2 separate regions of the Homo sapiens genome follow, and region 2 is linked to region 1. Evidence: fine-mapped expression QTL. A gene starts in region 1. The other region holds a variant in brackets. All regions are shown on one strand. Distances are from middle to middle. Region 1 holds the start of MIF-AS1 (MIF antisense RNA 1). Region 2 has its middle 31 kb from the start of GSTT2B.

The links. PIP is the estimated chance that this variant, and not a neighbour inherited with it, causes the effect.
Region 2: its variant is fine-mapped to the expression of MIF-AS1 in sun-exposed skin (GTEx, PIP above 0.99).

What each region holds. Positions count from the first base shown.
Region 1 is chr22:23,897,332-23,900,254 of GRCh38, forward strand. MIF-AS1 (MIF antisense RNA 1) reads right to left here and starts at 1,599. Exons shown (of 3, transcript NR_038911.1): 1 at 1,513-1,599.
Region 2 is chr22:23,929,045-23,931,967 of GRCh38, forward strand. It overlaps the pseudogene KLHL5P1. Among named protein-coding and RNA genes, the nearest start is that of GSTT2B, 31 kb to the right of the region's middle. The variant G/C (reference allele first, on the strand shown) is at 1,423.

The sequences.
Region 1 (2,923 bases):
CCCCGGCCTACAGGGTGACCCTCACTCTCCTCAGGGCCACTGTTTGCAACAGACAGACAGCCTGGCAGGCCTTGAACCTCATTTTGTAGGTTCAAGGCCTGTCCCCCATCTGTCCACTATAAGCCTCACACACACCATTCTTCTGGGATACCTTCCCTGAGGCCACCTGGTCAACACCCACAGGCCCCTTTGCTTCAGCCCAGGTCCTGTTAGCTGAGGTTTCCATTTCTGGACATAGCTCCACCCAGTTCTGTGATCCGTTGGGCTGGTGGCACCAGGGGCCCCTCGGTACTTGTCCATTCTGGACAGCCCAGCAATGTAGGCTTTTCCCAAGACTTCCCACCCTGCATGTGTCCCACCTCATCCCCTCCAGGAATTTTGCTTTGTTGCAGAGACTCCCTCCCCACCACCCCCCACCGCCAGCCTCCAGACCCCACTCCCTTCTGGGAGCCCGATTCCAGCAAGATCAGGATCAGGCTCCCACTCTGCTCCTTCTACTGGCCTCAGTTTTTCCCATCTGTGAAATGAAGGGATTCATCAGAAGTCCTTCCCACATACTCAATCACGGAGGCATGACAGGGACATCTCACATCCTCAGAGGCACGGTTAATCCAAGGAATGCCATGGGAAGGGAGGAGACAGCAGGTGGCCTGTGCCTGCACTCAGGTCTTGATAAATTGTGAAATCTCTCCCTCACCCCTTCCTCGGAGGGCACTATTGTTCCTGATGTGCCAGCCTTGATGGCAGTGGATAGGGAGGCAGGGACAGAGACAATGAGGAAGTGTGGTTAGGTATCTACTTAGAAGTCTCCAGATGGAGCCGGGAAGTGCTAGGAGGCCAGTGAGGCCAGTCTGTGCAGCAGGGCAAACGAGTGGTATCCTGCTGGGATGCAACTCAAATGCCTTCACTGGGAACTGCTCCCCCACCAGCCCCACACTGAAGGGCTGGCTCTACCACTCACAGGAGCTGGCAGGGCAGGCAATGAGACAACCCTACTGCCTCTAATGCAGTAGATAAAATTAATGCAGGGCCAACCCTCATATCAGAGTGGTTTTTCAGTTACCTGGACAAGTGCCAAGGGAGGGGCCCCTGGGGCCACCAGCCCAAAGACCACAGAACTGAGTGGAGCTCTCTATGTGCAGGAGACACACACAGAGATCAACTGATCCTTGGAGCTTGGGAGATTTCCAGGATTTCTGGGCCACTGACACTGTTTCTATAAAGCCCTCTTTGGCCATCTCAGTTCCTTTCCAGGCTAAGCAGTGAAAGCCAAGTCTTAGTTCTCCAGGCCTGGGCCTTCCTGAGTAATTTACAGGACTGGTGTGAGGGACAATGTCAACCCACCAGCCAACTGCCCAGATTTCCCCTCCTGGCGAGTGAGGCCAAGCCACTTCATTTCTATGTTTGAAGCCCATGTAAAAGAAACAGAGATTGTCAGTTTCAGAAACCGACTCTGTCCCTTCAGTCCTGGAACCTCAGGCCTCATCTGGTGACTATGGGGTCTCAACTTACAGTTTAGCTCTCAAAACAGCCAGACAGAGCACCAAATTGAAAGGCTACAAATGAGAAGTATCGTCCCCACCGCCCCAGTGACTTGGCTTCTTGCGTACCTAGTTCTCTTCTCAGTTTAATAGGTAATAGATTTATATGGCTCAAATTCAAAGCATGCCCAGGGGCTCCAGAGAGAAGGCTCCCTCCTGTTGCCTCCCTCCACAGGGTAATCCTTTCTCAAATTCACTAGATCACTGCATCCAGACAGGGAGACACTGGATCCCTCGTTCATCATGGCTGCGTTCTTACCCCTCCCTAACTCCTTCCCAAACATAGCTACATCCCTTCCACTGTTATATAACCCTCCAATTTTGGCCGGTCAGGGAGATGGATTCAAGACTTATCTCCCATTCTCCTTGGCTGCAGCACCTGAATAAAGCCCTTCCTCCCGGCAGTGATTGGCTGTGCAGCATGCAATGGGACCCAGACAAAACCCCTGGTGTTTCAGTAACACATTCAGACTATGGAACAGATTAACCCCGGCTCCCTAGAATTTGTTTTCTGAAGAACAAACAAACAAGGCAATAATGTCTTATGAAAAGACATCAGTAACCTTAAGCCTGTAAACCCCATCCATCTGTAGGGCACCCCATCTCACAGCAAAGCATGGGTGACAGCTGTGTGCTGAGAAGAGTCGGAAAAGGAGCCATGCTTCCAAGAATGTCTCCCTCATAACATGATGAGATGAGTCCTTAGTGAATTGCCAACCAAAACAAAAAACACAGCTGCTAAAAAAGAAGGTTCCTCCTTTGGAATCCTTGTACTACCATATCAAAATATTGAGAAGGAGCATCTCTTGTATTGACAGTAAGGATGCTGATGACTATTAGTGAATAAAAAGCCAGAATGAAGGACATGAACTTACACACATTTAACATTTCGGCACAGGTCAAGTAACTACAATAACCTATATACAAGACAAACAAGACAAAGTATATTTAGAATACATGCGATGAGTATTGATGCAGAAATGGACATTTCTCAGAATAAGATATGACTTTACAGATACCATACAGAGAATATGATTTCATGCAGATGGAGAAGATGTGGTGGGAGTTGTGGGAGAGCAATAGAAAATACATTTCCTGGCTGGGTGCAGTAGCTCACATCTGTAATCCCAGCACTTTGGGATGCCAAGGCCAGGAGTTCAAGACCAGCCTGAGCAACGTGGTGAGACCCTGGTCTATATAAAATATATTTTTAAAAAGTTTCCTGTACCTAGAAACAAATCCAAGATGTACTCTACAGAGAACCTCTACAGAGAAAACTAACACCCTGAACGTTATTGGAGAACTAAATAAATGAAGAGACTGACCATGTCTCTGTGTTGGGAACAGGCCCCCCAAAATCTGGCCATAAACTGGCCCCAAAA
Region 2 (2,923 bases), 32 kb after region 1:
CACCAATAAATAGTGTGGGCTCCCAGAGCTCGGGGCCTTTGCAGCCTTCAATCTAGTGCCGGCCCCCCGGACCCACTTTATGCACTTTTAACTTATCTTTTCACATTCCTCTGACCCCGCCAGACTTTGTAGCCCCCACGGCCTGGTGTTAGGCCTGATCACCCCAACATGGACACTGTGTGCACGGATGTCAAAAAGGAGAGGTGGCATAGGAGTAACGACCCGGAGCGGACTGCTGTATGCTATAGGGGAACATGATGCTCTCACATCCAACTTGACTTCCAGACTCTCAGATTGTGTGGAGACATCTGATCCCAAAACAGACATGTGGACTACAGTAGAATCAATGAGCATCAGCAGAGATGCAGTGGAGGTCTGTTTACTTGTTGATAAGTTTTATGCTGTTGGGAGGTATGATGGACAGGCATACCTGAATACAGTGGAGGCTCATGATCCCAGACAAAGAGTGGACCCGGGTTGCTCCACTGTGCCTAGGAAGAGCTGGAGCTTGTGCTGTGACTGTAAAATTATAATTTAGTGCTCTGTTTTCTACATGAAGACACTCTCTTCCTTTATTAATTTAGTACAATTATTCTACCATCAATGGATGCATTTTTAGTAAACATGCATTGCCACAATCCTGGGCACAAAGTACCTGATCTCAAAGCAAAGATAGTAAAACAACGGAGGAAGGAGTGGATGGACCAGGATTAATTGCTTTCAATTCTTAGTAAATGAAAACCTGCAGCTGGTGGATTGTGAACAAACATTCCTGATGTAACATATTAGGACAGATGCACTGCTCTGGAACATAGCCCAGTGCTAGCTGGGGATCTCATTTATTCAGTCAAGCACATCTTACTCATGCGGGTGGCAAGCCACCCAGGTGCCGAGGCAAGAAACCGAGGGCACGAGCTGTTCCAGTATAATAAAATATATAAAATAAGAATAGTTATACTAGATATAGATCTTAGATATGATTATATATATATCATTAATCATTAGTTTGCAGCAATTATTCTTTATTCCAATATTATAATAATTCTTGCTCTACAATCATAACCTAGGAAAAACCAGGCCATACAGAGATAGGAGCTGAGGGAACATAGTGAGAAGTGACCAGAAGACGAGTGCGAGCTTTCTGTTATGCCCGGACAGGGCCACCAGAGGGCTCCTTTGTCCAGCAGTAGCGCCAGCATCTGGGAAGATGCCCGTTGCCAAGCAGACCCTGGTCTAGCGGTAGCGTCAGTGTCAAGGAAAAACACCTGCTACTTAGCAGACCGGGAAAGGGAGTCTCCCTTTCCCCAGGGGATTTTAGAGAAGACTCTACTCCTCCACCTCTTGTGGAGGGCCTGACATCAGTCAGGCCCGCCTGCAGTTATCCGGAGGCCTAACTGTCTCCCTGTGATGCTGTGCTTCAGT[G/C]GTCATGCTCCTAGTCCACCTTCATGTTCCATCCTGTACACCTGGCTCTGCCTTTTGGATAGCAGTAGCAAATTAGTGAAAGTACTAAAAGTCTCTGATAGCAGAAATAATGGTGTAAGCTCTCTCTCTCTTTCTCCTCTCTCTCTCTCTGCCTCGGCTGCCAGGGAGGGAAGGACCCCCTGTCCAGTGGACACATGACCCACGTGACCTTACCTATTATTGGAGATGGCTCACACTCCTTACCCTACCCCTTTGTCTTGTATCCAATAAATATCAACACAGCCTGGCATTTGGGGCCACTACCGGTTTCTGCATCTTGGTGGTAGTGGTCCCCTGGGCCCAGCTGTCTTTTCTCTTATCTCTTTGTCTTGTGTCTTTATTTCTACACTCTCTCATCTCCACACATGAGGAGAAAACTCACTGACCCTGTAGGGCTGGACCCTACATACTCATATCCAGATTTATTTTCTTACAGTGCAAACACACCAGATGGAACTTCTAAAATGTTGCTTTCTATAAGTTTATCATCTATGAGTTGCAGTAATTTGTTTGTTTGCTTGTTTGTTTAACCACAATCACTATTTTAATGATATACTAAACATAATACTATTTAGTTTTTTCAGAAACATCGGCATTGTATGTGTGTTGGTTGTGGATTTTGTTTCTAAAATTGGCTTAGTCCAATAAAGAAAGAAAAGCATTAAAGACTTAAAGCAATGATAACCAAATACAACCTTGATAAAATCTTTGAAGTCTATTTAAATATTCATTCCATTACATCTAGACTCACCAAAAACTGTATGTCATGATATTCTTAAGTCGAAGTTGAAACATGATGTTTCACATTAAATTTAAGATATGCAGCTTGGCGAGGTGGCTCATGCCTGTAATCCCAGCACTTTGGGAGGCCAAGGCAGATGGATCATGAGGTCAGGAGTTGGAGACCAGCCTGGCCAACATGATGAAACCCCATCTCTACTAAAAATGTAAAAATTAGCTGGGCATGGTAGTGCACGCCTGTAATCCCAGCTATTCAGGAGGCTGAGGCAGGAGAATTTCTTGAACCCAGGAGGCAGAGGTTGCAGTGAGCTGAGATTGTGCCACTACACTCTAGCCTGGGTGACAGAGTGAGACTCCATCTCAGGAAAAAATAAAATAAAAACAAATAAATTTAAGATATGCAAATTTAAATAGAGAAAATAAACGTTATATACCCTATAATGTTATTTCACCTAATTAGTACTTAATTATATGGATTTATTTTATATTATAAAAGATGTTTTGATTTTTTCTTTTGATATTGACAACATTGTTTGGATATTCTTATGTTGTCAAGGCTGCACCTGCCTCCCCTGCCTTATTTCTTATGTTTTGCCACAGTTAACCCATTGTGCTTCTTTGTAATCAAACGGTTTGGGGAGGGGGGAGAAAGGGCTTACTGAATGTCTAAAAAAACAAGTTTAAAGTGTTTGTTACCCAAAGTTTGGTGCATTTGTAAACT